Linked DNA regions of Homo sapiens. The protein of the gene in region 1 interacts with the protein of each later gene in a biochemical or structural test. Each region holds a gene or a part of one and is shown on either strand. Other genes may lie near its edges.

What was found. Proteins that work in one complex are often made in the same cells at the same time.
Region 2: of the proteins of PTEN (region 1) and MEX3C, one has a biochemical effect on the other in vitro, tested with the Homo sapiens proteins (2 studies listed by BioGRID).

Annotation. Positions count from the first base shown.
Region 1 is NC_000010.11:87,964,516-87,968,263, reverse strand, and holds part of PTEN (phosphatidylinositol 3,4,5-trisphosphate 3-phosphatase and dual-specificity protein phosphatase PTEN), read right to left. Parts: intron 2,978-3,748; coding exon 2,792-2,977; 3' UTR 1-2,791. UniProt on the Homo sapiens protein: Dual-specificity protein phosphatase, dephosphorylating tyrosine-, serine- and threonine-phosphorylated proteins.
Region 2 is NC_000018.10:51,195,532-51,199,279, forward strand, and holds the start of MEX3C (RNA-binding E3 ubiquitin-protein ligase MEX3C), read right to left. Parts: upstream 2,151-3,748; 5' UTR 1,790-2,150; coding exon 1,036-1,789; intron 1-1,035. UniProt on the Homo sapiens protein: E3 ubiquitin ligase responsible for the post-transcriptional regulation of common HLA-A allotypes. Binds to the 3' UTR of HLA-A2 mRNA, and regulates its levels by promoting mRNA decay.

The DNA of each region.
Region 1 (3,748 bases):
CTGCCGGTAAACTCCACTTAAGTTTATAACCTGTGCCACAGCAAAGAATGGTGATGCTATTTATTCAACTACCCTTTTAAAAGTATGGCAAACATGTTCAAGAGGAGCTACAAAGGACTTGGGATGGTACAGGGCCCAACTGTAAGCTTTCTTAAAAGTGATGCCTTCAAGTAACTTCAGACATGTAAGCTGCTGCACATCCAAAAAGTCTAAGAAAATATTCCAGAAACTCAGAGATTACCTACAGAATGCATTTCAGGCTAATTATGAATACTGCCATAAATAAAGTTTTAATTAGGACTCGAAAACCTTTCAGTCATAGCAATTCTTGTCAAATTCTATGGGGATGGTAACTGAAATAAAGTAAGGAGAGTATGTATAATATATATTTATATATATAATATATATAATGCCATTTTTCCATTTCCAATGACTACACCATAAAATGTAAGCAAGGCTTCTCAAAAACATTGAAACATTCAAAATCAAAACCCTCATTCAGACCTTCACATTCCAAAGGAAAAATAATAACAGTGCAAAAGCCCATTATAATGTCATTATTTATGACCTGGCCCTCCATGTTACATATTGGAACAATAAAGTTACGTTTTAATATGCGGTGCCCGAAATTGTAACAAAGAACAATATTTATAACTATCTTCAAAACATGAAGTTGATTTTCATTTTAGGTAACAATTTTCAGCTTTTATGAAAGACAAGGTGGCATATAAATTTCAATGGTGAGGTGTTAGAATAGTTGTCTCTAACTTTACCAATTTAACTTATGAGCAATCAATCAATACTCTATATATCAATGTTTAAATATAAATGTGTAAATCCTAAGAGCTTTGTTAAAAATTTAAAAATTGTTGAATGAAACTGACAAGGTATGGAAAACGTGTCAACATTATTTACTAAGAATATTTTAGATGAAGTTCTGCCTAATCTATTTGCCATCAAACTCTATAAATGCTGCTCTAGTAGGTCCTATTCAATCTGTATTTGTAAATTAACTAGGTCAGACCACAGCTAGTGAACAATTTCAGCACCAATAAGTTATTGAAAATGGAATTTTATACCATTAAGAAACAAAATGGCTGGATATTCAAATGTCAAGGTGAAGGTATAATTTGAAGACACCAAATTTCTGGAAAAAAAAACCTTTTTAATAATATCTTCACATTAGCTTTACAATAGTAGTTGTACTCCGCTTAAAATCGTATGCAGTCTGGGCATATCAAATATATGATGATTTTTTTTAAGAAGTGAAATTGAAGCCCTAGTCCCAACTCGGGGGAGCACTATGAAGAAATGATTCAACACTGCACATTTAAAAAAAAAAAAAAAAAAAAAAAAAAAAACCCTATTCTTTCAATAGCAAATCAATAAAGCACATGTAGGACAATTTCTACTGAAAAATCAAATGTCTTTTTTTTGTGTGCAGCATTGAAAGTTTACTGCAACTCTAATTTCCTTTTTAACACAAATGTCCTTTTTAATATAAACATTATATGTATTCAGTATTCAAGTAAAATTCCCTAACAGTTAATGACATTTAAAAAATGTGCAAAACTGCAAAATTCATTGTAATAGAATGTGTAAGGTCAAAAGGGTGGAACGGCTGACAGCTATTGAATAAGTGCATCATAAATCTTCAAAGAAAAAAAACGCTTACTGTAGAATCTCAAATTGAAAATTTCTGTGCAGCATTACAAAATATTTTATATTTAATGAGAAAAAAGAAGCTTGCAGGCAGCACATGAAGCATCCACAGCAGGTATTATGATTGAAAACTAGTAAAATAAGTGTAAGTTGTTGACTGATGTAGGTACTAACAGCATCTGAATTTTAGCACTGGCCTTGATTACACAGGAGATGGAGAAGTCGTTACAATTGAGAAAACATATTTAATAAATCATTGTCAATTTTTATAATGTTTCAAGCCCATTCTTTGTTGATAGCCTCCACATTTATATGGTTAAGTCATTGTTGCTGTGTTTCTTACCTATGACATTATTTTTATATCCCTTCATTTGTGGATCTTAAGATGTTGCAGAAGGTTCATTCCTGTACCCCAATACAGATTCACTTCCTTTAGCTGCCTTTTCTAGCACCAATATGCTTTAAAAAAAAATGCGCAAACAACAAGCAGTGACAGCGGCCAATTCCTCGAATGTCCAGATTAATAACTGTAGCATGCTAAAGAAAGGTGTGTGTAAATAGCTGGAGATGGTATATGGTCCAGAGTCCAGCATAAAATTATTTCCTTTCTGAGCATTCCCTCCATTCCCCTAACCCGAATACATGCATTAGAATGTAGCAAAACCCTTCGGAAACCTCTCTTAGCCAACTGCAAACTTATCTGTTGCCACAAGTGCAAAGGGGTAGGATGTGAACCAGTATATCACAAAGCTCTTTAGCCACTTCAGTTGGTGACAGAACACAAAAGGAAAAAATTCCTACGTATACACATCAGTCTGTCTCCACTTTTTATAAAACTGGAATAAAACGGGAAAGTGCCATCTTTATTAATCCTAATTGAATTTTAAATGTCCTTTTGACACAAAAAGGTATATACATGACACAGCTACACAACCTTTTTTCAACTGGACAACAAGTGTCAAAACCCTGTGGATGTATAGGGTAAAACAAGATTGGTCAGGAAAAGAGAATTGTTCCTATAACTGGTAATCTGACACAATGTCCTATTGCCATTAAAAAAAAAAAGGTCCATTTTCAGTTTATTCAAGTTTATTTTCATGGTGTTTTATCCCTCTTGATAAAAAAAAATTCAGACTTTTGTAATTTGTGTATGCTGATCTTCATCAAAAGGTTCATTCTCTGGATCAGAGTCAGTGGTGTCAGAATATCTATAATGATCAGGTTCATTGTCACTAACATCTGGTGTTACAGAAGTTGAACTGCTAGCCTCTGGATTTGACGGCTCCTCTACTGTTTTTGTGAAGTACAGCTTCACCTAGAGAAAGAAAATTTAAAATGAAAACCCACAAATATGACTCATCTTAAACTATTTAGTGAAATATATTTTTAACAGATTTTTTATTCCATTTTGCAGATGAACATATTAATTTTTAAGCACTGTAACAAACATGATCTTTAAGAGGCCTTTTAAATGACCCTCTTCTTAAGATGTTCAACATTTTCTTTCTTGCTAGGTACTAAACAGATAAACTATCAGGATGTTAATACAATTTATTTATTTTTATTTCTGGAGACAAGAGTCTTGCTCTGTTGCCAAGCTGGAGTGCAGTGGCATGATCTTGGCTCACTGCAACCTCTGCCTCCCGGGTTCAAGCAATTCTCGTGCCTTAGCCTCCCAAACAGCTAGGGCTACAGGTGTACACCACCATGCCCAGATAATTTTTTGTATTTTAGTAGAAATGGGGTTCATGATGTTGCCCAGGCTGATCTCAAACTCCTGAGCTCAGGCAATCTGCCTGCCTCAGCCTCCCAAAGTGCTGGGATTACAAGTGTGAGCCACCACGCCCAACCTCAATTTTATTTTTTAAGGAATATAAGTGGCAAATATTAACTAAATAATTATACAAAATAAATGCAGATTGAAAGTCATCAATAGTTTACATAATATAGCATTTGAATTACAAAATTCAATTCACAAACAGCTGAGTTCAAAAAGAATGTTTCTCTTACTACCTATGTGAAAAATCAATGTATTTCTTTGTGTGTGTGTGTGTGTGTGTGTGTGTTTTTGAGACAGGGTCTTGCT
Region 2 (3,748 bases), on another chromosome or scaffold:
TCTCTTTATTTGACCCCAACAATGCTCTCAACCTAACAGTAAAGAGGCATGCAACAACCAGGCTAAACCACATTGTCATGCGGTGGCAGCAGGTAACATCTGCCCCTTTCATAAAGGGGAAATGCTACCATAAAGAACTTAGGACCTTCCCTAAAAATGTCGGATACAGAGGTACCCCAGGCATCCCCTTCCCCCACCTTCACAAATCTACTCCTGGAATCTGAGACACAGGTCCTTTGTCTGAACAATGTGGGAGGAGTCTGTCTGCAGTACTGGTGTGCTGGCAAGTGAAGAGGAGAATTAACTGAAAACTGTATAAACCGATGAAGTTTCTTAATTACCTTAGTGTCCATTTTTTCTTCATCCTGCACACTGAACAGTTTTAAAAGACAGCCAGTGTGTCAGTGTGTCTTTCCGAGAGTTGAAACGTACCGAGAGAAATACAGTTAAGATAGGCGGCAGTGAGTTGGGCTGCTTTTCCAAAGCTAAGTTTCTCAACAGCGGAGGGGCAGGGGATGGCGGTGATACCGACCATTTGAACACCCCTTCCCTCCCCAGTGAGCTCTGTCTACAGGCCTCCATTTCTGTTCTTTTCTCCATCTGAACAAGTTCTTGTAAGGGAGGCTGAACGCTTTTAGAAGACACTCGGCGGCGCAAACTTGCAATCTCGAAGCTTTCCGTACCCAACAGCGAACCCACAACTCCTCGAGCCCGACCTTTTACCACCTCACTGAGGTTTCTGGTGCCACGCCAGCCTGGTGTTCCACGAATACAGCCCAAGTAACGTGAACACCACCGGACTGGGTCGCCCGAGAAACTTCACACTTTTTACCAGGCAAGACGGGCGGAAAAGCGTGGGTTTTCGCAAGGTGACCCATCTTCACATCTGGTCGACCCTCGGCTCCTCCCAGACCCCTTCGCGGTGGACTTGGGGGCCTCGCCGGGTTCGCCTTTTCCGTCCCACGCTCCTTTCTCTCGTCTCCCCACCCACGCCCGGGGCCATGCCCAGCTGGACCTCCCCACCCCTGCACTCACCCTGGCGGCCGACGATCTCGGCGACGTGCTCGGAGCTGGGCACCGGGACGCACTCGGTGGTGTTGACGCTCTTTCTCCGGAGCAGGGCCGCCTGCTCCCCGTTCAGGGCGGCCGCCGCCGCCCCACAACCGCCGGGGCCGTAGGCGTGGGACAGCATCGCCGCCATCATGCCCTGGGCATCGTCCCCTCCGTACAGCACCCCCGCCGCCGCCGCCGCGGCCGCCGCCTCCCGGGCATCGAACCTGGCGGCTGGCAGCAGCACAGACCCCAGGGACCCGCCCGGGATCTGCTGGGTCTGAGAGGCGGTGGCCGCGGGCGGCGACAGCAGCAGCAGCGACGACCGGTCCTCCTCCTCTGCTTCCTCCAGCTCCTCCTCCTCCAGCAGGTCTCCGTCCAGCTCCGCTTCCTCCCCCTCCTCCTCGTCCTCTTCCAGCTCCAGCTCGGCCGCCTCCGGGGCCCCGGGCCGGCCGGGCGGAGCCCGCTCCTCTGGAGACAGCTCCGCCGCCCGCCGGGCCTGGCCCTGCGCCGCCGCTGCCGGGGCCCGAAGCGCCGGGGCGCCGGGCTCCGCCGGGCTGGGGTCGTCGAGGCCTAGCGCGGCCAAGCGCTCCCTCAGCAGGAGCCCGTCCCCCTCGAGCTCCGGGCCGCCCGAGGGCGGCGGCAGAGGCGGCGGTGGCGGCGGCGGCGGCGGGGGCGGCTGCGGCAGGGGGGCCGGGGCCGCCGCCAGGGCCAGGGCCGCGGAGCTGCCGCTGGGCATCGCGGCGGCGCGCTGTCAATGGCGGCGGCGGCGGCCGGGTCAGGCGCGGCAGGCGGCGAGCCCCATGGCGGACAGGGCCAGGGCCCTGCTCAGCTCGCAAACACCTTTCCTCTGGGGAGGCGGCGGGGCTGGGGACCCGGGCCGAGGAGCGCCAGGGCCGCCCGGAGACCGGAGAGGGCGGGGTGGAGGGGCAGGGGAAGGAGGCAGAGGTAGGTAACTAGGTGGGTGGGTGGGGACGGCGGCGGGGCGGGCTGGTGGAGGTGGCAGCGGCTCCCCTCTCAGTGTTTCTTTTGTTTCATGGCCTTAACCAGCCCCCGGCGCGCGCGGCGGCGGCGGCTACGCCCCACGCCGCTCTCCGAATGAAGCCGGCGCGCTCTGATTGGGTGCTTTTAATCTCTGGGAGCCCGCCTTCTCCTCCCGCAGCCTTCCAACTCCTTTCCCCAGCCCCACCCCCCACCCTCCTTCGGGCCCCGCCCCTCCCCTCCCCAGAGCTCTCTGATTGGGTGACCGGGACCAGCCAGTTCCCGAAGCCTACTCCTTCCGTCCTCTCCCCGCCCACCTCCCTCTCATTCCTCCCGGCACGCGCGGAGAGGGACTGTGATTGTTCACTTTACACGTCACTCTTTGTGACGTCCCCGGCGGGGGCGGGAAAAAGGAGGCGGACGAAGGCGCTGCAGCAGAGGCTGAAACTAAGGGCCAAGCGGGGTTTTGGCGCAGGCGCGTGCGGTCGAAGCGCACACCTGGATTTGTTTCCCCCCAACCCTTCATCCCTGTAGCCCATGTGGCTGAGTTCTTTTAGGGAAGGCACTGTGTGAGCGGCCTGGAGCAGAGCTGCAGGCATAGGTTCGAGAGCATTGTTTCCTTGGGTTGAGGAAGAGATCGCCCCCTTCAGAGGAAGGGCCTTAAGAAGAGTCACGGAAGGAGGGGCCACGCAGTATCCTCCTATCCCCTCGCGGGGGCGGTTTCCTGAGCCGCGTGGCTCCCGGGCCTTCCCTCTCGGACTCGGGAATGCTCCTCCCACGCCCCGCTGGCCCGGCTTCTCTGCCGGCAGGATGGTTACATCAGCAGCCTGGAGGTGCTGAAGTTTAGCTCTTCGGGGTTTTTTGTTTTTTTTTTTTAAACGGAGTCCAGCTCTGTCGCCCAGGCTGGAGTGCAGTGGTGCGATCTTGGCTCACTGCAACCTCCGCCTCCCGGGCTCAAGAGCTTCCCCTTGCAGTGGCTCACGCCTGTAATGCCAGCACTTTGAGAGGCTCAGGCGGGCGGATCACGAGGTCAGGTCAGGAGTTCGAGACCAGCCTGATCAACATGGTGAAACCCCGTCTCTACTAAAAATACAGAAATTAGCCGGGCATGGTGGCGCACGCCTGTAATCCCAACTACTCGGGAGGCGGAGGCAGGAGAATCGCTTGAACCCGGGAGGTGGAGGTTGCAGTGAGCCAAGATCATGCCACTGCACTCCAGCCTGGGCGACAGAGCGAAACTGCGTCTCAAAAAAAAAAAAAAAAAAAAAAGAGTTTCTCCTGTCTCAGCCTCCCGAGTAGCTGGGATTACAGGCACGTGCCACCACGCCCAGCTAACTTTTGTATTTTTAGTAGAGACGGGGTTTCACCATGTTGGCCAGGCTGGTCTCGAACTCCTGACCTCAAGTGATACGCCCGCCTCGCCCTCCCAAAGTGCTGGCATTACAGGCGTGAGCCACCTCGCCCAGCTCTTTGGTGCTTTTTAAGAAAATGAATCCCCGTTTCCTCCTCCCTAGACACTCTTCCCACAGTATTGCTCAGGTGATCTCACGCAGTGGCTATCTTTTCTAGAGGTTATTATTTCTGTTTTTGTTGAGACAAGAGTCTCACTCTGTCGCCTAGGCTGGAGTGCAGTGACATGATCACAGCTCACTGCTGCCTTGACCTCCTAGGCTCAAGTGATCATCCCGCCTCAGCCTCCCCAGTGCATCACCACGCC